Homo sapiens: one gene and its partners. The protein of the gene in region 1 interacts with the protein of each later gene in a pairwise test. Each region holds a gene or a part of one and is shown on either strand. Other genes may lie near its edges. The genes, in order: ZMYND19, GRB10, FNDC3B, GMEB2, KCTD13, PTGES3L-AARSD1 and CPSF6.

Region 1 (2,966 bases):
GAAGGCATTGCCAGGTGGAGTGGTGAGCAGCGGGCGAACTTGCGGAGTTGGGAAGGGCCCATCCCAGCATCAACACTGAGCATGTATCAATGTGGGACAACGCAGGAGGAGATGCTACAGATGCTGCTCTGCCTGCCAAGCACGCCTTCCCCTTCCCCTTCCCTTTTCATGTAGAAAAGTGATTCTAAGCAAGCTAACTACAGTTCATCCCAGGGCTTCCCCAGACACCACTAGAACAGGGTGCCTGCTTCAGTCCGCAAGTGCTAGGTAGTGCCCATGCCGCCTCCCAGAGAGGAGCCGGGAGTGGGGGCGCAGAGCTGGAGGCAGCAGCATCCCTGGCTCTCCACATTTCAGTCAGGATACCAAAATGTACCCTATTTTTGTTTCAGCCAAATTGACCTTTGTTTCTGTTTCTTGCAACCCAAAGTTCCAACTAACATAATCCCCGAAAGAATAAAAACCCCATTCAACAATCGTAAGAGGCCTGGCTTCACTCACAAGCAGTATGAGGAAGGTCAAAACTCTAATATTAGAGCAAGGACCGGGCGTGGTGGTGCACACCCGTAATCCCAGCTACTCAAGAGGCTGAAGCGGGGCCAGGCGTGGTGGCTCACGCCTGTAATCCCAGCACTTTGGGAGGCTGAGGCAGGCGGATCACCTGAGGTCAGGAGTTCAAGACCAGCCTGGCCAACATGGCAAAATCCCACCTCTACTAAAAATACAAAAATTAGCCAGGCGTGGTGGTGGGCACCTGTAACCCCAGCTACTAGGAAGACTGGGGCAGAATTGCTTGAACTGGGCAGGCAGAAGCTACAGCGAGCCAAGGTCGCGCTACTCCAGCCTAGGCAACAGAGCCAGACTCCGTCTCAAAAAAAAAAAAAAAAAAAAATGCTGAGGCAAGAGGATTCCCTGAAGCCAGGAGTTCAAGAACAGCCTGGGCAACATAGTGAGACCCATCCGTAAAATTAATTAATTTAATGAAATAAACAGAGCAGGGAAAAAAAAACACCAGCCCAACAAGAACGAAAGACACTTCAGGCTCTGCCTTCGTCCTGAGAGGCCCAGTGAGGAAGGGATGGGGGGGGATTTGTAGGACTCCCTCCAGGGTGGCAGGAACAGCAGTTTGGGAGTGGCATTTTGGAGGCCTGGGGACTGTCCCCACATCACCAACCAGTGTGTCAGGTGCTCCCACTGTTTCCACCTCGGCTGCCCAGGGCTCTGGCATGACTCTGAGGTGACAACTGCAAAGATTCTACCCACAGCCACCAACCATCACCAAGCCCGAAACACTAAACCTTACCAGCGTTGCTGACAACCATCTGCTAGGGCAGTTCGCACTGCCTGCACCAGGAAAGGCTGCCCAGAGGCTTGAGGACGTGCCCAAAAGCCCCAGGGCGCCAGGGGAACATGTCAGTGAAGCGTGTGTGGCTGGGGACTCCCTGGCTCAACTGGGCTCCCAACCCCTATCCTGCTGGTCCCTTGGCTCTTCCCAAGGGCTCCATGAAGTTCACAGACTGGCTGGTTCTAGGGCCAGCAGGAACCGCCCTCCCAGGTGGGAAGCCCATGCAAAGCACTGCTTTCAGGATCACAGGCAGGTCGGGGGCCGAGGGCTGAGCCCTGAACCATTCTCCGCTTTAAACCTTTGCTTAAGGAAAACTGTTTAGCAAAAGAACACAACAAAAAGACCCATCTGTGTGCACAGAAAAGAATCCTGAGGTGAGGAGAGAAGGAAGGAATCCTGAGGTGAGCAGAGAAGGAAGGAATCCTGAGGTGAGCAGAGAAGGAAGGAATCCTGAGGTGAGCAGAGAAGGAAGGAATCCTGAGGTGAGCAGAGAAGGAAGGAATCCTGAGGTGAGGAGAGAAGGAAGGAATCCTGACGTGAGCAGAGAAGGAAGGAATCCCGAGGTGAGGAGAGAAGGAAGGAATCCCGAGGTGAGAGAAGGAAGGAATCCCGAGGTGAGAGAAGGAAGGAATCCTGAGGTGAGAGAAGGAAGGAATCCTGAGGTGAGAGAAGGAAGGAATCCTGAGGTGAGCAGAGAAGGAAGGAATCCTGAGGTGAGGAGAGAAGGCTGATGCCTCCCAGGGGTGTGGGGCAGAAGCCCTGCTCACACCGAGTCCCGACGCTGGCCCTGCCCTGGAGCAGGCAGCCCTTCTCCCCACTGTCATGCCAGCTAAAGGGAGGTTCCCAGAGCCAATTATAAGAGGAGCAATGCAAAAACACACACCATCAAGATCCTTCCCGCTCCCATGAAGAAAAGGAGGATTCCACGCTTTGGGGAAAAACAATGAAATTCCCAAAATACACAGAAGCATCAGGGCTCAGAGGAGGAACAGGAGACCCTCTTGGAAACAAGAGCTTTGGCGGTGGCCCTCCTCAAAAGGCGCCTCTGCTGGCATCGCCAGGCCCTGAGAAGACCCACCTCTGCTTGCTGGAGGTCTCTTCAGCCTTGGGCCGCCAGCCCCACGGCACCAGTTGCAGGTTGTCCAGGCGATTGTCCACGGTCACAGCGTTGAGGTGCACCACCTGGAAGCCCGGGGCCACGCCCCCCCGGTGCCGCTCCCTAGAAACAGACAGCAAACCCTGCATCTAACCCTGCATCGCTGCCTCCCACCCTCACAGACATTTCTGGTCAGGTACCAAAGTCCTTCCAGGAAGAAATGTCAGCCATGTGATCTGATCGGGCCCCTGGTCCTTTGGATGAGGGTACCTCAGGCGGAAGCTGCTGAGAGAAACCCAAGCACCTGATCTGTGGCCCAAACAGGACAGGGACACAGGGAGGACCCGGCCCCTGGACTTCAGAGCACAGACAGCCAAAGCTGGAACGCAAAACCACCTAAGCAGATGGCCTCGAGACAGCTCCCCATCTGAGTGGTCCCTACCATGCACACCGGGGGGGCTCGGCAAAACCCAGCAAGGGGAGCAACCACCGTCCCTCCAGAGGCTGCCGGTCCTGGGCAAGCTCCCA
Region 2 (3,500 bases), on another chromosome or scaffold:
AATATGAAATACTGCAAATACAAGCTGTCTATTGGAGAGAGGCGTGTGAGAGAGAGATTATACACTGATGGGACTGGTCTACGTACACAGAAAAAAGAAATCCTAGAGTTGTTTTTCCTTGAAAAGGGTTTACCTCGAGCCAGTGAAGAGGAAGGAATCGTGGTGTAACTGCAATGTCCGTCCCTACAGTGAAGCCTGCCACCAGGTGTGAACGTGAGAATTATCTTACTGTCAATAGTTTGAAAGACTGACTGGCTGCGAAAGGAAGAAAATGCAATTGAGCACTGATGGTTAAAAACATGTTTTGCTAGAAAATTCTTCATTTGTATACCTTTCATGGAAAACAACTAGAGTGTGGTCTGTAGACTGACATACAGTGTTACTATACGGTAGACTGACTTCCAGCTGACTGGCCTTACTGAAGCTTGTGACACTGCTCTAGGCTACGGGGGTTGACTGAGGAGCAGAGAAATGCTGTTCCTTAGGGAACACTTCAGTGGGGCGGATTTGGGGCAATATCATGGCCAGCACACATTAATAGAAGCCAGGCAGGTGTTGTCTTGAAAAAGGAAATCATTCTGCTCACCACAGTAGTTTGTCGCCTGTCAAAGGAGTCCTTTCTGCTTTACAGGGATCAAAGGTAAGGAAATGGCCACTCTCACACCTGATCACTAAGCTAAGGGGACGTGGCAAAGGGGGCCACCCGAGGGGCGGAGGGGACCAAGTGACAACTCAAGCCACCATCTGACTCATCTCCCGGAGCGGGGACAAAGTGTTGTGTTGACAAAACTCTTCCATGTCCACAACCACTGTGAGGTACTTCTGACCCTAAGCCAGCAGAGGAGGAGCCTCTAGCTGCTCTGTGTTCACTGGCTTATGGGGGTTTTCAGCAGGACGGAGGGCTGCAAGCAAAGATCTTTAAATATCAGCCTGTGCCTGTGGCCCCTGCAGCGTTTCCTTGTCTTTATCACTATGGAAACCCATGAGACACAGCACGAAGACAACCAGGTGCCATTTTCTCTTTAGATCCTTTAATCCCCCGAGGGACATCAGCCGTGAAACGACTCACACCACTGCAGCAGCAGGGGTAAGGCAGTGATCGTTCTAGAACAGGCTGAAGGCTGTGGAAACGCAAGGCTGAAGTACCCAGGTGGATTATGCAGCATCCACCGCTGGCCGATGACGGGTGCCAGGTGTGTCTCAAGGAGGCTGGCCCACGTCAATCTAGAGGCGAGGCCATTCAGCCTGCTGTTTGTGGAACAGTGAATTTTCCAAAGGAATAAAGTCTCCTGCACTGTGCAGAACAAGACACACTAATAACAAGAGGATCTGACATCTGAGCATAGAGAAATGATTAACAGACTGTGGTTGCTTGACTGAGTCCACAAAATATGCCAAATGCCTACCACAGTGACACCTTTTATTTTAACAAGAAAGCTTTTCAAGTATACTGGGAAGGGCTGGGTTTGTCATTTGGGAGCTGAATCCACACCGTGGTAGTCGGCAGAGGGTGTGGAGGACCCTCTGGGAACATTTGGGGACCCATATTCAGTTTGAAATCTGCCCATTCAAAACTCTTTCTGTATTATATGAGTTGAAACGCCACATCCCCCTCCTACAATAGGCTGAATACAATATTGAAAACAAAGAAGGAGTGCAAAAAAGTGATCAATACAAAAAAAGTAAACATATCAGTTTTAATTGTCAAGATTATTCCAGGGCAAGAGTTCATTTCCAATCACTTCTCTCCGGTTCTTGTTCCTAAGCGGCCCAAGCCAAGATGATCATTCCAGTTTATTTTCAACTTTCCGCTGGATCTTCCATGCCCTCCCCAATTTGGCCGATGCAGAGGGAGGCGACCCTGCTGGGTTCACAGCAGCAAATCGTCGTTTAAGTCCAACAAACTAGTCAATCTTGGTCGGCTGGCACCGAACAAACCCATCTCGCTCTGGGTCCCCAGGTGCAGAATCGATGTGTGTTCTTCACCAACGCACAGACCGCTTCTTCACTCCAGTGTTCACTTCCTCCAGTCTTCAGCCGAGAGGACATCTGCGGTCATAAGGCCACTCGGATGCAGTGGTGCTTGAGTTTGCAAGGCAGGACTCCTTTGTTCAGCTGGTAAAAGTCAACCAGCTGGATCAGGTCAGAGAATTTGGTGTTCCCGTCATCTAGGCTGAAGAACGTCTGCCCGTCGTCCTCGCACTGGAGAGACACAAGAACACTTGCCAGGTTAGAGGCTGCCACCTCAGGGAACAGAACGGGGCCCACGGCCAGCAGCAGCTACATCTGCCCATGATTTGATTCCAGAGGGACACACAGGGCAAGGTAGGCTAGAAAACACCAGGGGCGGGAAAGACGGGAGCAGAGGATGTGTGCTGGGGGCTGCCATGTCCCTGAGCGAGGGACAGACTTTGGGTGGGCTGCGGAGGCTGCTGAGGACAGCTAGCTCCCCTGCTCCCTAAGGTGGTCAAGGGGAAGGGCTCGAAGTTGCCCCCAGTTCACCCAGCTCATGAGAATTACATTTACCAGTTAACTTGTAAGTACCCACTGCACACAGCATGCCCCGAGAAGACTGCACAAACCTGGGTCCTCACTATACGACCTCAGCCAACTCCTGAGGCCCCAGGGGTTTACTCTGCTCCATGATGAAGCAACTGTTGGGTGGCTATGAGGGATTAATAAGCTCACGCAGGTAAATTCCGTTCCTAGGTCCCTGAATATGGGGCAGTTATTTTTATTAAAGCAGGGGAATGCCACAGTATCTCCCAGAGAGAATCATATTCCTAACACCTATTTTAACTCAGTGAGTTTTCAGTTGGATGACTGTAGTACAGTGCAAAACACTGCTGAAAGGAGGTCGTGTTGTTCACAGGGAATAGGTCAGCCTTAAGGCTTGGCTAATTAATGAGCTTGGAACCACTTCGTAACTCTAAAACCATTGCTAGAGCTAACAGCACATCCCACAGCCAGTTTTCACACACAGAGGCTGCACACCTAATGCCCTAAGTCCCAAGTTGCTGTTCTTTTGTTACTTGTAGGATTTGGGCATTACACACTCTGCCTACCACGAAAGCCCCCTTTCTTTCTTTTTTTTTTTTAATTTACTCATCCAGCCTAAAATGTCAATCACTTTTCATTTTATATTTTGAGCTAAAAGAATTATAACTGTGTGAATAATATAATGCAGTAGAAGAACAAAAAGGATTGTCTATGCAGCACTTTCCCTAGGACAGTAATTCCTGTATTTGCATATAAGGTTGGCTGGAAGCTGGGAAGGCTGGGCTCAACCCCAGATTCTGTTCCTCACCCCAGTGCGGTGCAGGAAAAGCCACTGACAGCCATGAGCCTCATTTTCCTCACGAGTAAGGTGGGGATGTCAGCACACAGCAGGAAGCAAGCAGCCACAGAAAAGACAGTGCGTGGCACACTGCCTTCCCCTGGCTCACAAAAGCTAAGCAAGACACCCTCCTCATCCTGTATGGTCCATGGCTGCCAGTCAC
Region 3 (3,500 bases), on another chromosome or scaffold:
CCACCCTGGACAATAAGAGCGAAATTCTATCTCAAAAAAAAGAAACAAAAAACAATGTTTAAAGGTTAGAAAATGTGACAGGTCCGAGTGTACACCTACTACTGGATTTCTAAATGACTCGCTGTGCTATTCAGGATAGATTATCTTCATGTGCTTACATGGTCTGCCAATATTAACAAACTCCCTGATTCATCTCAATATTAAAATGCCCTTTTTTCCCCTCCAGAGATCTACTTTTAAACATTTTCCTCTTAAATTTAAGTCAGTTAATAAAATAAGGAAACTCTCTGATCTCCAAAAAATGGCCTAGGGAAATCTCCATTTACACTGCAACAGCCAGATGAAGAAAAAATAACTATATACCTGCCTGAAGCAGACCAAGGGGGAGTAAAGAGGCATATGGAGACTGTGTAGGATACATCTTCAATATTTACTTTTGCATTTTTTAATTGTCATAAAATATACATAACAAAAAATTTACCATTTTCTGCATTCAACTTAGTGGCATTACATACATTCATAATGTTGTACAACCATCGCCACTGTTCATTTCCAGAAATTTTTTATCATCCCAAACAGAAATTCTAAACCCATGAAACACTATCTCTCCATCTTCCCTTCCCCCAAGCCCTGGTAATCTCTATTCTACTTTTTGTCTCTATGAATTTACCTATCCTAGTCATCTCATGCAAGTGGATATATACAATATTTATCTTCTTGTGTCCGGCTTATTTCACTTAGCATAATGTTTTCAAGATTCATTCATGTTATGGCATGTATTAGAACTGCCTTCTTTTTTATGGCTGAATAATATTCCACTGTACCAAAATATTCCAATATATAATACCATATTTTGTTTATCCATTCATCTGTTGATGGGCATGGGTTGTTTCTACCTTTTAGGTATTGTCAATAATGCTGCTATAAACACTGGCTTTTAAGTACCTGAGTCCCTGCTTTCTTTTGCGTATAGGAATAGGAATGGAATTGCTGAATCATATAGTAATTCTATGTGTAAATATTTATGAACTACAGAACTGTTTTCCACAGTAGCTTTATCATTTAACATTCCCAACATGCAATACACAAGGATTCCAGCTCAATATATTTAAGTATTCTCTAATTCACTACTTCAGAATAATGTTTACCTCTATTTCTTAATCAGAATTATTTTTCTTGAGATTAAAAAAACCATGATCGAAAAATCAGAAACAGCATCTAAAGACTTTTATTATTTTCTTTCCCATTGAATGACTTAAACAATAAAAGATATAGAAGGTATAGAATGGGTTTTTTAAAACCTTTAAAATACTAAGAGAAAATGAAGCATAATATCCTAGAAATACATTAAGTATCCTATATGTACAACTTGTACTGTTAAAAACTGGTCAAATCTGACCCCTAAGTAGACACATACTAGAAAACCTCGCATCTGAGTGACTGAGTATAAAACGTAAAATATCCAGAAATCTTTTAAAAGAAACTTACTCTTATTACTGGCAAGTTCATACAGTACCTGGAACTAAGCTGCCCAGGAGGATCTTGCTTTAGTAAAAGTAGAGGAGAAGGACATGTAATTACCTTATCTAAATACTAAACTCAGGACTCTCCACAATCTTGCCCAAACACAAAGGCAGAAGAAATGAAGCTAAAAGCAATAATGATGCTCTTAAACCTTTAACACCTGCTGTCCCCAATCTGCCATCAAATGCTTACACATGACAAAAGAAGTTAACAAGTAGCAAAACAAATGTCAATAGAAAAACTCCAAAACCAATAAATAGGCATAGTTGGAGTCTATTGGTAGAGTGGAGTGGGGTGGGGGAGGCAGATATTGTGTTTATTGTTGTGATGTATTTTGCAAGCAAATAATATAGTTCTACCCATTGCTGGTAAACTGTTTGTAGTTCACATAATAGCATTGAGTCAATCAATATTTATTTCATGGCAATCCACAGAGAGCACTGACTTTCCAGGGGCTCCTGTATCTCTATGAAAAGACCACCAGCAGACCAGCATCAGTGAATGCATTCTGCATTTTTACACTGCTTTTAAGTAAATTGATTTTCCCAAGGTGCTTAAAAGTGGTTTGTTCTTTTAATTAGGTAAATATTCCTCTTAAGATCTATTTAAACTTGATATTTACAGTAAAACCTTTTCATACAGAATAGGCAGCCAAACTTTATCCTAGCCTTGCCTAGATAATTGCAAATCCCTAATTAGCTACATCTAGAACAATGGCGTTATTTTTAATAGAGACCCCTCTTTCATAGGCTATGGGGAATCTTAAATCCCTTAAAAATAAATTAAACCATTATATTTCCTGGGATCTTAGAATCTTCAATTATTTCTAAAACATCCCACCTTTGTTCATGTATAAAGATCACTTTCTACACAATTATTTCAACAGAAAGCTTTTCATAATTGTGAGTTAGGATCATGTCAATTTAAGTAAGTTTTTATGACTAGTTGGCCTTTATGAAAATCTTTACTACTCTTTCCAGGGTCAAAACAAAGATGTATCCTTACATTCTAATATAATTTAGAAGCCTTAAAGTCTAACACAGCCTGAAGGTGCTCCAATTTTACTATTTCTCAAATTTCAGAAGGTAGCAAAGAGTTGAACTTACCACCATCCAGCCTTAGGAGTTTGGTGGTAGACACTGTTCTCTATACAAGATTCCAAAAACATCAGAACAGAGTAGAACATTCCATTAACAAAGAACCTGGTCTAGATCTCAACAAATGCATTCTGAGTCAATAAACAAGTAACTGAAATGAAATTACATTTTAAGCTCAAATAGAATCATTTAACACAAGACACACTTTGATACTTACTAGAACCTCAAATAACACTGTGACTCAACACCATCTCAGAAAAATCCCCTACCACCCTGCAAAATGGTTATTTGAAACTGATGAGGTATTTTAATGATATTATAAAAACAAAACAGGGCCGGGCAAGGTGGCTCATAACCTATAATCCCAACATTTTGGGAGGCTGAAGCGGGGGGATTGCTTCAAGCCAGAAGTTAGAGACCAGCCTGAGCCACAAAGTGAAACCCTGTCTCTATAAAAATAAAAAAAAAAACATTAGCCAGGCATGGTGGCGTGAACCTATAGTCCTAGCTATAGCCCTACTCAAGGATCACTTGAGCCCAGGAGTTCGAAGCCATAGTAAGCTATGATAGAGCCACTGCACTCCAGCAGCAGTGAAACACTGTATCTTAAAAAAGAAAAAGAAAAAAAATTAGGAGCCAATGTCTAAACTGACACTGAGTAGTGAGTGCCAAGGGCATCAGAAATTCTGATCCAACACTTACAGAATGCTAAACTTGCATATCTTAACTGGGGAGAAACAAAGAAAAATTCAACAATCGATCCATTTTCAAACTGACAAACATCCTCATCTGTATGTAGATGGCTGATCACGACTGTCTATCGATCTTATGTGATTTATACTTGGTGGTTTTAAAAACATTTCTGTCCCCTGATCTTCA
Region 4 (3,500 bases), on another chromosome or scaffold:
GTCTTGCTCTGTCGCCCAGGCTGAAGTGTAGTGGTGCAGTCTTGGCACACTGCAGCCTCTGCCTCCCGGGTTCAAGCAGTTCTCTCACTTCAGCCTCCTGAGTAGCTGGGATTACATGGGCACACCACCACGCCCAGCTAATTTTTGTGTTTTCAGTAGAGACAAGGTTTTACCATGTTGGCCAGGCTGGTCTAACTCCTGACCTCAGGTGATCTGCTCGCCTCGGCCTCCCAAAGTGCTAGGATTATGGGCGTGAGCCACCACACCTGGCCTGAGTAAAATTTTAAAGTGGCTTTTTTTTTTTAAGAGAGAGTCTCACTCTGTCACCCAGGCTTGAGTGCAGTGGCATGATCTTGGCTCACTGCAACCTCTGCTGCCCAGGTTCAAGCGATTCTCCTGCCTCAGCCTCCCAAGTAGCTGAGATTACAGGCACCTGCCACCGCGCCCGGCTAATTTTTGTATTTTTAGTAGAGACGGGGTTTCACCGTATTGATCAGGCTGGTCTTTGAACTTCTGACCTTATGATCCACCCGCCGCGGCCTCCCAAAGTGCTGGGATTACAAGTGTGAGCCACCGCGCCCGGCCTAAAGTGGCTTTTTATTCATGTTTGTTTAAAGTTCTTTATTTTGAAGCCTAAGTCTACAACAACAAAGTTATGCTAGTGAAAACATTATATTTGAGAAATACGAAGTAATTCCGCCAGTGTAAACGAATTCATCATTGTAACTTTCCTGGCTAAAAAGCATCTGAAGACAGTCTTCAGAGACCCTGATGCCCTAATGGGAAATTGCCCACCAGCAGCTGGAGGGGTTCACCTGTGAGCCCCCTTTCCCCTTAGGCGCTCTGTCCTAGATGGCCACCATTTAAATTGAGTGACAGTAAACGGCTCATCATGTTCCAGGATGTTCTTAATTTGTAAAAATTTTTTTTCCTCATTTAAACAATACATTTTCCTTCCATCACTCATTTTCGATACCCTCCTGAAACAGGAAACGGGGAATATTTTCTTGTCCCTCGCACTTAGTCCTTAGTGCTTGTGTTTAGATGTGTTCCGTGAATACTTTGAGTAGTGTTCCTGTGGAGCCCTCACTGGTGTTCTCTGGGCTCTGGGCGCTGCCCCTTCTTACCCTAAACCTACCACAGCCCTCCCCGCCACTCACCGTCCGCCACACTCACTGCTCTCCCAGGCCAGGCTGGCGTCAGTAACGCGTGCGGGGTCTTTGCTGCGGGTGGTACCCAGCTCCCCACGGTTTCTTTTTGCTTCCTTTTCTTTGAGAATGGGTCTTTCCTTCATGGTGTTTAACCACCATCCCCTCTGTTCAGATCACCTACATTTCTTGGTTCCTTGGATCTCTGGTCAAGGGTTACTTCAGAGACTGGCTGCCATTTGCGATTGGTGGCCCAGGAAATCGTAGCTTTCTTTTCTCCCCTTTATCTTGCCTGTGGCCCTTTACCTTGGAGTTGTGTGGAGACCCATGCCCAGGTAGGAAGAAGTAGAGCCCCCTGGTCCAGTGCATACCCAGACAAAAGACAGCCTGTGGAATGGAGGAAAAGAAGCTAGGGTGGCCTGAGGACCTTTTGTTCTCTTGCGGACTTCCTCTCCCTAAGACATTCAGAAAAATGTTCCCATGCTGGAAAATGTCGGTTGAGTAAGATTTAGCAAGAACCTTGAGACCTGAAGGCACATTTTGTGATCGATTGTTCAGTTTGGGTGAGTTAGTTCTGGCATTGAAGGCATAATTGCAGAGGCCTGGCTGGGCTATGAGTGCCTCCCCTTAGTGAGTGCAGGGCCAGACTCTCCGCAGGGGACCACTGCGTGCCAGGTTGGGGTGGACCCACTCCTGTCCTTAGACACACTTGTTTGTTACAGTCCTAGGGGCAGGTGATGTTATTTTTATATTAACAATGATGATTTTAAAAGTTCTGGAAGATTTTATTTTCTTTCTTTTTTCTTTTCTTTCTTTCTTTTTTTTGTGACAAGGTCTTGATCTGTTGCCCAGGCTGGAGCGCAGTGGCACAACCATGGCTCACTGCAGCCTTGACCTCCTGGGCTTAAGTGATCCTCCTGCCTCAGCCTCCAGAGTAGCTGCAACTACAGGCGTGCACACCACCATGCCTGGCTATTTTTTATTATTTATTTAGCAGAGATGGGGTGTTGCTGTGTTGCCCAGGCTGGTCTCAAACCCCTGAGCTCAAGCATTCCTCTTGCCTTGGCCTCCCAAAGTCCTGGGATTACAGGTGTGACACCATGCCTGGCCATGAAAATTTTTCTTTGTTTAAAAAGTTTTTATATTCTGTACTTTCTAGTCTATATCTAATCCTAATGAGTCATTCTATTATAGTAGCATTACAGTGTTTTTATTACGGTAAAATATACATAACATAAAATTTAACCATTTTAAACTTTTTTTTTTTTTTTTTTTTTTTTTTTTTTGAGATGGAGTTTCGCTCTTGTTGCCCAGGCTGGAGTGCAGTGGCACGATCTCGGCTCACTGCAACCTCTGCCTCCTGGGTTCAAGCAGGTCTCCTGCCCCAGCCTCCCAAGTAGCTGGGACTACAGGTGCCTGCCACCATGCCTGGCTAATTTTTAGTATTTTTAGTCAAGACAGGATTTCACTGTGTTGGCCAGGATGGTCTCGAACTCCTGACCTCAGGCGATCCGCCTCCCAAAGTGCTGGGATTACAGGCGTGAGCCACCACGCCCAGCCCATTTTAACTGTTTTTAAATGTGTGGTTCAGCACCATTCAGAACAGCCACAGTGATTGTGCAGCCATCACCGCCGTCCATTTCCAGAGCTTTTCATCATCCCAAACAGAAATTCTGTACTCATTAAAGAACAACTCCCTGTACTCCCTCCCCCAGCCCCTGGTCACTTCTGTTCTACTTTCTTTCTTTTTCGTTTTTTGAGAGAGTTCTCACTCTGTTGCCCAGACTGGAGTGCGGTGGTGTGATCACAGCTCATTGCAGCCTCAATCTCCTAGGCTCAAACGATCCTCCAGCCCCGCCTTCCGAGTAGCTGAGACTATCCCAGCTTTGTGTATTTTCTTTTGGTTGTCGTTTTTAATTTTCACATTTCTGTTTGGTTATAACTCCTGTTTCTATACCAAGATTTTCTTTCCACTTGGTTGACAATGTTTGCTTTCCTCTTGGAGCTGGTCCGATAGCACCTGAAAGTCTCTGGATTCTGCGTTCAAGAGCCAGCTTCTCTTGTGTATTTGTTCCTTTGAGAATCAACCAGACTACCCTTTGCCAGGAAGTTTGATCGTGTTCTGGATGCTTTGACTACTGTGCTATGGACTCTAGGTCTTGTTTTAAGTTTCACAGAGAATGTAGACTTTTTTTTTTCATAGCAAGAAATCGACCTGGTTAGGTTCAGGCTGCAAATTTTGCACCCCGTTCCTGTGTCTGTGTTCTTAGGCCAGTTTATTTTAGAGACTTTCCAGTGCACTGTGGATCTGTCCCATATGCGCCACTGGGGCCCATCTGAGACCTGGGCAGT
Region 5 (3,500 bases), on another chromosome or scaffold:
GGCTCACGCCTGTAATCCCAGCACTTTGGGAGGCTGAGGCGGGCTGATCACCTGAGTTCGGGAGTTCATGACCAGCCTGACCAACATGGAGAAACCTCGTCTCTACTAAAAATACAAAATTAGCTGGGTGTGGTGGCACATGCCTGTAATCCCAGCTACTCAGGAGGCTGAGGCAGGAGAATTGCTTTAACCCGGGAGGTGGAGGTTGCAGTGAGCCGAGATGGCGCCATTGCACTCCAGCCTGGGCAACAAGCGAAACTCTGTCTCAAAAAAAGAAAAAGAAAACTGATAACACAAAAGGCAGGATGTAGAGGAGGCTGTTTTAGCCAGGGGGGCTGGGGAGGGCTGGCCCTGAGGAGGCACTGTGTGACCTGCGATCTGAATGGCATGACGGACACGCCACGCTGACAGCTGAGCAAAGAAGCATCCCGGGCAGGGGCACAGCCAGTGGCCGGGGCAGGCACAAGCTGGATGTGTGAAGCAGCAAGGTGTCCGTGGGACCAAGGCCCAGCAAGCAAAGGGAGAGTGGCAGAGAGGCTGGCGGAGCTTGGAGCCTGCAGAGCCCTGCGGACCACTGAGGAGTCTGGAGTTGTTCCCAACCAGCTTTTGAAGGCTTTTAAGTGGGGGAGTACGTGGCCTTTGGTTGTGCTGTTAACCACCTTCCGCTTCTTCCCCAGCAAAAAAGGGAGACGCTGTCCCCGCTGTGCCTCATCCCCATGGTGACATCTCCCCGGGAGGAGCAGCAGCTCCTGGCCAGCACCTCCAAGGTGAGGCCCCCAAGCCCTGCAGGGTGGAGGCTCACTGGGGGGGCCTCTCCCTGCAGCCTCACCCCTCTCGTCCATCCTCTCTCCCCCGCCAGCCCGTGGTGAAGCTCCTGCACAACCGCAGTAACAACAAGTACTCCTACACCAGGTGACCGCCGGGGTGCGGGGCACTGGGCGGGACCCTGGGATGCAGCACAGCCCTGCTTCTGCCCAAGGCGAGGGCCACGGCCACACGGGGGGCCTACAAGAACATCTGTGCCTGCTCGCAGATTCGGCTTCGCCTCTTACCCCTGACGCTCTAGGCAGGTCCTTTCTGCTTCTCAGCTTCAGCTCAGTCATCAGTAAATGGGTTTGGGTGAGGACAAAGTGATAGTGGCGAGCCTATCCCAAGTGCTCTCATTCTAGGAACTGGCAGAGTCCTCCCCCTTGAGGTCAGTACTGTTGTGAGCTCCATTTTACAGATGAGGAGGTCGGGACACCAAGAGGTGAAGTAACTTGCCTAGTGTCACCCAGTTAAAAAATGGGGACACCAGGACCCCCGGGGAGGTGGCCTGGCTCCCGGTCCCTCACTGGAGCTGCTGTGCTGTGCTGTGCTGGGATTTGCTCAGCGCATGTGGCTTCCCTTCTGAGACCCGTTTAGCCTGGCCCCAGGGGTGGAGGAGGCTCTCTGTTGAGCACCAAAGCCCTGGGCAGGAGCAGAGGACTGGGAATGCATCCAGGCCCGTCTTCTGGGGGTACAGAGGGAGGGGTGCCAACTGCGCTGAGGCCTCCTGGTCCCCTGGTCCCCAGCACTTCAGATGACAACCTACTTAAGAACATCGAGCTGTTCGACAAGCTGGCCCTGCGCTTCCACGGGCGGCTACTCTTCCTCAAGGATGTCCTGGGGGACGAGATCTGCTGCTGGTCTTTCTACGGGCAGGGCCGCAAAATCGCCGAGGTGTGCTGCACCTCCATTGTCTATGCTACGGAGAAGAAGCAGACCAAGGTCAGAGGGGCTCCAGAGCCTATGTTGGGGGCTGGGGGTGGCCAGGACCAGGACCCTGGACAAAAGCAGGTTGGCAGGGGAAGGAGCCCACCACCAGGAGGCAGGAGCCAGATCCTGGGGTCTGGGGTGCACAACAGTGGGCAAGCCACCCTATCCCTGTGGGTCTCTGTTTCTCTGTGAAATGGGGGTCACGGGTTAGAGCAGGGTGCTTAGCCTAGGCCTGTTGGATGGGTTTCAAGGCTGTTTGCAACTCCTGAAATGGGGGTGTATGCATTTTTCTGTATAGGGGGTCCATAGTTGCCATTAGAAACTCAGAAGGGGTGAGGCATAGTGGCTTACGCCTGTAACCCCAGGACTCTGGGAGGCCAAGGCAGGAGGATCACTTGAGCCCAGGAGTTCGAGACCAGCCTGGGCAACATCGTGGGACCTGATCTCTGTAAGAAGTCAAAAAATTTAGCCAGGTGTGGTGGCTTGGTGACATGATGGCATGCACCTGTAATCCCAGCTACTCAGGAAGCTAAGGCAGGAGGATTGCTTGAGCCCAGTAATTTATTTATTTATTATTATTATTATTATTATTTGAGATGGAGTCTCGTTGTGTCACCAGGCTGTAGTGCAGTGGCACAATCTCCGCTCACCGCAACCTCTACCTCCCAGGTTCAAGCGATTCTTCTGCCTCAGCCTCCCCAGTAGCTAGGACTACAGGCACGTGCCACCATGCCCAGCTAATTTTTGTATTTTTAGTAGAAACGGGGTTTCACCATGTTGGCCAGGATGGTCTCAATCTCTTGACCTCGTGATCCACCCACCTCAGCCTCCCAAAGTGCTGGGATTACAAGCGTGAGCCACTGCCCCCAGCCTATTTTTTTTTTTTTTTTTTTAGACAGAGTCTCACTCTGTTGCCCAAGCTGCAGTGCAATGGTGTGATCTCAGCTCACTTAACCTCTGCCTCCCAGATTCAAGTGATTCTCCTGCCTCAGCCTCCCAAGTAGCTGGCACTACAGGCACCCGCCTCCATGCCCGGCTAATTTTTGTATTTTTTAGTAGAGACTAAATGTAGTAGAGAAGTCTCTTTAGTAGAGACTTCGCCATGTTGGTCAGGCTGGTATTGAACCCCTGACCTCAAGTGATCTGCCCTCCTCGGCCTCCCAAAGTGCTTGGATTATAGGTGTGAGCCACCGGGCCCGCCCTAGCCCAGGAATTTGAGGCAGCAGGGAGCTATGATCATGCCACTGCACTCCATCCTAGGAGACAGAGTGAGCCCTAACTCTAATTAAAAAAAAAAAAAAGGGAAACTCAGAAAGGCCCATTGCCAAAAATAGATTCTTAAAACCTCAGAATCAGATGTCTCTTAGAACATCCTCTGAGTTTGTAGATCCTGAGTCATTAATGTGGCAATCATCAAGATATTCCCCAAGCCCCTGCTCTGTGCTAAGTACTGTACCGGGCTGGAAATCAAGGGGAATGAAGTGCTGAGCAAAATACAAGCCCTTCCTCATCTGGTCCCTTCCGAGCTTACTATGAGCCACATGCCTCAGGTACACCACAGTCATCACAAGTCTCTAAGCACTCAGTGCTATTTCTTACCTCTTACCTCTGCACACACTGTTGCCTCTTGGAATTCTTTCCTTCTATCTGCCTAATGAACTTGTACTTAATCTTAAGACTCAAGCTAAGCATCACTTTCTTTGGGTCACCTTCACTCATGAACTTTCAATCCAGCAACCCCAAAGTTGGTCACACTCCCTTCA
Region 6 (3,500 bases), on another chromosome or scaffold:
GAGAAGCCGAGGCGGGCGGATCACGAGGTCTGGAGTTCGAGACCAGCCTGGCCAACATGGTGAAACACCGTCTCTACTAAAAATACAAAAATTAGCCAGGCATGGTGGCACGCACCTGTTATCCCAGCTACTCGGGAGGCCAAGGCAAGAGGATCACTTGAGCCCGGGAGGTGAGGTTGCAGTGAGCCGAGATCATGCCATTGCACTCCAGCCTGGGCGACAGAGCGAGACTCCAACTCAAAAAAAAAAAGACTGTTCTGGTGCTATGTGGAGAATGGGCTACAGAGGAGCCAGACTGAATGTGGGGCAATCAATTAGGAAACTGTTAGAGAGGTCCAGGGGGAAGACAGCTAGGAGCTGGGACTAGGATGACAGTGACTGTGGAAAGAAGTGGACAGACATTTAGAAAACAAACCAACATGCTGGGGGGGTGTGGCTCATGCCTGTACTTTGCGGGGTCAAGGCAGGCGGATCATCTGAGGTCAGGAGTTCAAGACCAGCCTGACCAATATGGTGAAACACCGTCTCTATTAAAAATACAAAATTAGCTGGGCATGGTGGTGGGGGCCTATAATCCCAGCTACTCGGGAGGCTGAGGCAGGAGAATCGCTTGAACCCGAGAGGCAGAGGTTGCAGTGAGCCGAGATCGCACCATTGCACTCCAGCCTGGGTGACAGAGCGAAACTCTGTGTCAAAAAAAAAAAAAAAAAAGAAAAGAAACCAACAGGACTCAGTGATTGGCTGGCTGTCTATGCCTGAAGAGGTATCTGGAATGACTTCCAGAACTTGAGTGACTAGGTGCATGCTGATGCCCTGCGATGAACACACAGGATGCTAATGAAAGACCAGGAGGGAGGGGAAGGCTTTTTGTTTCATTTTGGACATTTTGAGTTTGAAAAGGCTGTGAGACATCCAGATGGAGATATCGAGTGGGAAGTTGATAATACCTAAATCCAGCAGTTATTCTAATACTTTTTTTTACTTCAGTTGTTCATGTTGCTGTTATAACATTTAGGATATCCTTCCTGAATTACAGCTGATTCTGAATAGTCTGTCTTTTCCAAAAGGTTAACTCCTAGAGAACCCAAACTACGTCTCAGTCATCACAGCATCCCCATACATGGCAACTGCTCCGGTGTTATGTCCCCCATCCCAGCCTTTACCTGAATGCTGCTGCATGTGGTCAAACCTCCGCTCCCAATCTACCCGGACCAGAACCTGGCTTCCTGGATCCAGGGGTGTCTGGGTGAAATGATCAGCCTGTTCCCCACGGCGAGTCACTCTCAGCACAGAGATGTCATTGATTGTACCACGGTCATCAGGCTGGTGGAAATAAGTAAACGTAATCAATGGCAAGGCAGGGCTCACCCTAACTTCTAGGTACAAAGACCCTCTAGGGTGAGAGACCCAGAATCTGGGCTCCCTAAGGGAGAGGGAGAAAGCAATGCCAAGTGAAATGAGTCCACTTTGTTCCATGAGAGGATTCTCAGTCCTTTTCATTCTAAACACCTATGTGTTGTGATCTTCAGAATAACAGAATTAAAGAGATTGTAACTACAGCAACAAAAATTTTAGTAAAACCCGAAGAATCTTAATCCTCAACTCTCCTTGCCTTAGTCTAGATTCTTTTGTAGTCTCTAAAATGATCTGATTTTTCCTCCCTCCCTCCACTCCATCCTCTTGCAGTGGTATTAGAATTAGATTCAAAAATGTTCATTTAGGCTGGGCATGGTAGCTTATTCCTGTAATCCCACCACTTTGGGAGACCAAGGCAGGAGGATCGCTTGAGATCAGACTGGACAACACAGTGAGACCCCACCTCTATGAAAAATAAAAAATTAGCTGGCCATGATACTCCCTGCTACTTGGGAGGCTGAGGTGGGAGAATCACTTGAGCCCAAAAGGTTGAGACTGCAGTGTGCTATGATTGCTCCACTACACTCCAGCCTGGGTGACAGAGTGAGACACTGTCTCATTTAAAAAAAAAAAAGGGCCAGGTACAGTGGCTCACACCTGTAATCCCAGTACTTTGGAAGGCCGAGGTGGGCGGATCACAAGGTCAGGAGATCAAGACCATCCTGGCCAACATGGTGAAACCCCGTCTCTACTAAAATACAAAAAATTAACTGGGCATGGTGGTGCACACCTGTAGTCCTAGCTACTCGGGAGACTGAGGCAGGGGAATTGCTTGAACCTGGCAGACGGAGATTGCAGTAAGCCGAGATCACGCCGCTGCGCTCCAGCCTGGCAACAGAGCAAGACACCATCTCAAAAAAAAAAAAAAAAAAAGTTCATTCATTTTAAAACATTTCAAGTGCCAACTGCTTACAAAAGACTGTGCCAGCCCAAGAATACAATGTAAACAAGATATGGTACCTCATGGAACTTAAGAGTCTAGAGAACAGAGGCTGGAAAACAGACAATTGCAATATGACCTATAACATGCCATAATATGAAAAAGTATATGACGCTAGAGAACCTCAAAGGAAAGAGACCTAACAGTCTTGGGGAATCAAAAAAAGACTTCCTGAAAGAAATGCTGTCTAAAATGAGACCTTCTATGGATACTTGAGGTCACAGGTTTTCCTTCAGCAGATCAGGGAAATCTTCATACTGGGAAAATCACCATAATAATGACTGATATGAAATTGGAACTCTCTCAATACCAAGTCTACTGAACATGTTCTCTCATGTCACTTATTTGCTTAAGAACCTGAGTGGAGGCCAGGGCAGTGGCTCACACCTGTAGGCCCAGCCTTTGGGAGGCCAAGGTGGGAGGACTGTTTGAGGCCAGGAGCTCAAGATCAGCCTGGGCAATAAAGTGAGACCTCATCTCTACAAAAAAGCAGCCAAGCATGTTGGTTGTGCGCCTGTAGTCCCCACTACTGGAGAGGCTAAAACAGGAGGATTGCTTGAGCCTGGGAGTTCGAGGCTGCAGTGAGCTAGATCAGGCCACTGCACTCCAGCCTGGGTGACATAGCAAGATCCTGTCTCTTAAAAATAAAAAAGAAAGAAAATAACCTGCATGGTTCGCTGCCCACACACCTTAATACACCTTTTTTTTTTCTTTTGAGACGGAGTCTTGTTCTGTCCCCCACGCTGAAGTGCAGTGGCACAATCTTGGCTCACTGCAACTTCAGCCTCCCGGTTCAAGTGATTCTCATGCCTCAGCCTCCCGAGTAGCTGGGACTACAGGGGCCTGCCAGTATGCCTGGTTAATTTTTATATTTTTAGTAGAGACAAGGTTTCATCATGTTGGTCAGGCTACTTGGGAGGCTGAGACAGGAGAATCACTTGAACCCAGGAGGCGGAGGTTGCAGAGCTGAGATCATGCCACTGCACTTCAGCCTGATGACAGCGAGAGATTCTGTCTCAAAAAAAAAAAGAAAGAAAGAAAGAAAAGAAAAGAAAGAAAAGCCTTTCTCATAATGCCCACCTTTGGTGTTATTATCCTCCTCTTCCATCTTCACAATGTACCTCACTTGCGCTCATGTTGTACC
Region 7 (3,500 bases), on another chromosome or scaffold:
TAATCCCAGCTGCTTAGAAGGTTGAGGCACGAGGATTGCTTGAGCCCAGGAGTTTGAGGCTACAGTAACCTATAATCACACTACTGCACTCCAGCCTGGGCAACACAGTGAGATCCTGTCTCTAAAAATAAATAATTTTAAAAACTAAAAATATTTCTTAACTATACGAGTACACATTTTTGTTCATCTTGTATAACATACCATAGAATTCAGTCATTCAAAATATATAATTCAGTGGTTTTTAGTATTTCACAGTGTTATAACCACCACCATAATCAATTTTAAAACATTTTCATCACCCCAAAAAGAAACTCCATATCCATTAGCCATCGCTCCCATTCCTTCCCATCCCTGTACCCTATGGAACCACTAAACCTAATTTCTGTCTCTGGACTGGCCTATCCTAGACATTTCATCTAAATGGAATCATACAATAGGAGGTCCCTTGTGACCAGCCTTCTTTAACTAGCATGTTTTCAAGCTTCATCCACTGTTACAGCATGCATCACCACTTACTTTTATGGGTGAATAATTTTCCATTATAAATATACAACATTAAAAGAAATGTATCCATCAGTTCATGGACATTTGGGTTGCTTCCACTTTTTGCTACAATAAAAAGATGTACAATATCATTAACTATTGGGGAAGTGCAAATCAAAACCACAAGATACCACCCCATACCCACTAGGGTGGCTATAATCAAAAAGACAAGTATTAAAGATGTGGAGAGGCCGGGTGCAGTGGCTCACGCCTATAATCTCAGCACTTTGGGAGGCCAAGGCAGGAGGATCATGAGGTCAGGAGTTCAAGACCAGCCTGACCAACATGGTGAAACCCCGTCTCTACTAAAAATTCAAAAATTAGCCAGGCATGGTGGCGTGTGCCTGTAGTCCCACGCTGGGAGGCTGAGACAGGAGAATCGCTTGAACCTGGGAGGCAGAAGTTGCAATGAGCCAAGATTGCGCCACTGCACTCCAGCCTGGGTGACAGAGTGAGACTCTGTCTCAATAAATAAATAAATAAATAAATATGTGGAGAAACTGGAACCATTGCACATTGCTGATGAGCACGTATTAATAAAATGGCACAATGCCTCTGGCAAATAATCTGGTAATTCCTCAAACATTTAAACATAGAGTTACTATATTAACCCAGTAATTCCATTCCTAGGTACACATCCAACAGAACTGAAAATACATGTTCACACAAAATGGGTACACAAATATTCACAGGGGCATTTTCCTTAATAGCCAAAAGTGGAAATAACCTAGACGTCCATCGACTGATAGATTAAAAGAAAAAAGTGCTATATCCATGTAGTGGAATATTACTCAGCCATAAAAAGAAATGCTGATGCATGCTTCAACATGGATGAACCTTAAAATCATTATGCTAAGGAAAAAAGCCAGTCACATAGGACTACGTATTTTATGATTCCATTTAGATGAAATGTCCAGAACAGGCATATCCAGAGCACGTTAGCAGTTGCCAGCAGATAGGAAGAGAGGAAATGGGAGTGACTGCTAACCAGGTACAAGGTTCCTTCTTGGAGTGATGAAATGTTCTGGAATGAGACAGTGGTAATGGTTGCTAAACTTCATAAATATAATAAATTATCATTGAATTGTACATTTAAAAGCCTGCATTTTATGGCATATGAATTATACCTCAAAAAGAAAAACAAATTTAAAATAATCAGAATGATTACCAATTCGTATAGTTACAGGATATTCTAAATTATTTGAGGGAGGGAGGGTCTTAGTAGCTTAAGAAGCTTAAGCTCTTTTCCCCCTAATGTTCAATATGATCTTTTAAATTATCCTTCTTATTTTAGTCAACAAGTTCTGCTGTTTGCACCAGGATTATCTTGGGTCACAACATTTAGAAAAAACTAAATTAATTTAACAAATATTTATTAAGCACCACTTCTTATACGCAAGGTACCATTCTAGAGCTGGAGAAGTAATAGAGAACAAAACAAAATCTCTGTTCTCATTAAGCTTAAAGGCTTGGAAGAGGAGACAACAAACGAGTAAAATATATCAGAGCAGAAATAAAGGAAACAGGATAGGAAGGTGCTACTTTGCACAAGATGGTCATGGAAGAAAACTCTTAAACAGTTTGAGTCCTGAATGAAGTCAAAGAGTAAGCCATGTGGATATTTGAGGGGGAAAAGTAAACCAAGAAGAGAAAACAGCTAAAGGTCCTAGGTAGGAATTGGTCTGGCCAACAGCAAAGAGACTAATGTGGCTGAAAAAGAGTGGTAGGATAGGGTTAGAAAGGTGGTGGGAAAACAGACCAGAAAGTACCTTGTAGACAATGGTAAAGAATGAGACAGACAGGAAACCATGAGAAGATTGAGCAGAATGTCATTTTTTTTTTAGAACTTCTGTTATGTGGAGTACAGACTGTAGGGGGCAGTCTATACTTCCAGTTAGGAAGCTACTGCCAAAGTTTAAGTGAGAGATGATAGTGGCTTTGACCAAGTGGTATAAGTAAAGTTAGTGAGAAGTATTCAGACTCTGCATATATTTTGAAAATATTCTCAGTTTAGTATAAATTGGTATAATCTTCTAAGATAAGTAAGCAATATAAGAAATAAGAAAATTCTTTATCATTGTGCATCTAACAATTTATCCTTAAAAGAAAATCCAAAATCTGTACCAAAAGACTTATATAAAATGATGTCTGCTGCAACATTATTTACAATAGGCAAAAGTGGAAACCACCACGATAACCAAAAATAAGAAAGGTAAATTACAGTAGCATACCAGGTATGATGCAAAAGAATTAGACATTAGAGAGGATGTGTATTTATTTTTATTCCTTATATCAAACATATAAAACACATGAATTATAATTCCATTATTTATTTATTTATTTATTTTTAGGAAAAAGCCCAAAAGAATCTTCACTAAAATGTTAAAAGTAAACATCAATGAATGGTAGGACAGTGGTATTTTATTTTCTTACTTTTAGATATCTGTATTTATAATGTTCTCATGCTGAGGCTATCCCACTTGTATAGTTTAGTAGTGAAATAAAGCAAAATATCCATGTAACACATTATTCAGTTGCCCATCTTCTCCCATCTCTTAATCACAGGGAGAGTAATGGTTCTTAAACTGTCATTTCAACAACCATTTCAACCACAGATAGAGAAAACTTGGGAAAAATAGAAAATAAATCTGTCCACATTTCCACTCTACTGGTTTTAGTGTGTTAGGTAATAGGGTACGTAAAATGAAAAGTATCAATCTTTGCCCAAGAACCTCCTTCCAATGTAAACAATCATGTGTTGTTTGTATACATGTGTATACATGTGTAATTAACATTAACTTAAAGGAAAGTTAACTTGTAAAAACTGTATCACTAGCTACTAAATCAAAAAGAAAGAAAAAAAAAACTTACCCCTTTGACTGGCCATTTGCCCGATTTTCAAAAAATTTTATCTCCAAAATATCATTTACTCCCAAAGAATGAACTGCTTCAGTTAA

Evidence for each region.
Region 2: the proteins of ZMYND19 (region 1) and GRB10 interact in binary tests that used the Homo sapiens proteins (3 or more experiments, as listed by UniProt).
Region 3: the proteins of ZMYND19 (region 1) and FNDC3B interact in binary tests that used the Homo sapiens proteins (3 or more experiments, as listed by UniProt).
Region 4: the proteins of ZMYND19 (region 1) and GMEB2 interact in binary tests that used the Homo sapiens proteins (3 or more experiments, as listed by UniProt).
Region 5: the proteins of ZMYND19 (region 1) and KCTD13 interact in binary tests that used the Homo sapiens proteins (3 or more experiments, as listed by UniProt).
Region 6: the proteins of ZMYND19 (region 1) and PTGES3L-AARSD1 interact in binary tests that used the Homo sapiens proteins (3 or more experiments, as listed by UniProt).
Region 7: the proteins of ZMYND19 (region 1) and CPSF6 interact in binary tests that used the Homo sapiens proteins (3 or more experiments, as listed by UniProt).

The regions. Positions count from the first base shown.
Region 1 is NC_000009.12:137,584,547-137,587,512, forward strand, and holds part of ZMYND19 (zinc finger MYND domain-containing protein 19), read right to left. Parts: intron 2,562-2,966; coding exon 2,421-2,561; intron 1-2,420. UniProt on the Homo sapiens protein: May be involved as a regulatory molecule in GPR24/MCH-R1 signaling.
Region 2 is NC_000007.14:50,590,897-50,594,396, forward strand, and holds part of GRB10 (growth factor receptor-bound protein 10), read right to left. Parts: intron 2,203-3,500; coding exon 2,056-2,202; 3' UTR 1-2,055.
Region 3 is NC_000003.12:172,046,078-172,049,577, reverse strand, and holds part of FNDC3B (fibronectin type III domain-containing protein 3B), read right to left. Parts: intron 1-3,500. UniProt on the Homo sapiens protein: May be a positive regulator of adipogenesis.
Region 4 is NC_000020.11:63,620,602-63,624,101, reverse strand, and holds part of GMEB2 (glucocorticoid modulatory element-binding protein 2), read left to right. Parts: intron 1-3,500. UniProt on the Homo sapiens protein: Trans-acting factor that binds to glucocorticoid modulatory elements (GME) present in the TAT (tyrosine aminotransferase) promoter and increases sensitivity to low concentrations of glucocorticoids. Also binds to the transferrin receptor promoter.
Region 5 is NC_000016.10:29,909,227-29,912,726, reverse strand, and holds part of KCTD13 (BTB/POZ domain-containing adapter for CUL3-mediated RhoA degradation protein 1), read left to right. Parts: intron 1-677; coding exon 678-767; intron 768-859; coding exon 860-912; exon of another isoform or gene 913-1,066; intron 1,067-1,169; exon of another isoform or gene 1,170-1,553; coding exon 1,554-1,749; intron 1,750-3,500. UniProt on the Homo sapiens protein: Substrate-specific adapter of a BCR (BTB-CUL3-RBX1) E3 ubiquitin-protein ligase complex required for synaptic transmission.
Region 6 is NC_000017.11:42,960,029-42,963,528, forward strand, and holds part of PTGES3L-AARSD1 (PTGES3L-AARSD1 protein), read right to left. Parts: intron 1,324-3,500; coding exon 1,164-1,323; intron 1-1,163. Other genes in the region: alanyl-tRNA editing protein Aarsd1, read right to left, coding at 1,164-1,323. UniProt on the Homo sapiens protein: Functions in trans to edit the amino acid moiety from incorrectly charged tRNA(Ala).
Region 7 is NC_000012.12:69,253,069-69,256,568, reverse strand, and holds part of CPSF6 (cleavage and polyadenylation specificity factor subunit 6), read right to left. Parts: coding exon 3,415-3,500; intron 1-3,414. UniProt on the Homo sapiens protein: Component of the cleavage factor Im (CFIm) complex that functions as an activator of the pre-mRNA 3'-end cleavage and polyadenylation processing required for the maturation of pre-mRNA into functional mRNAs.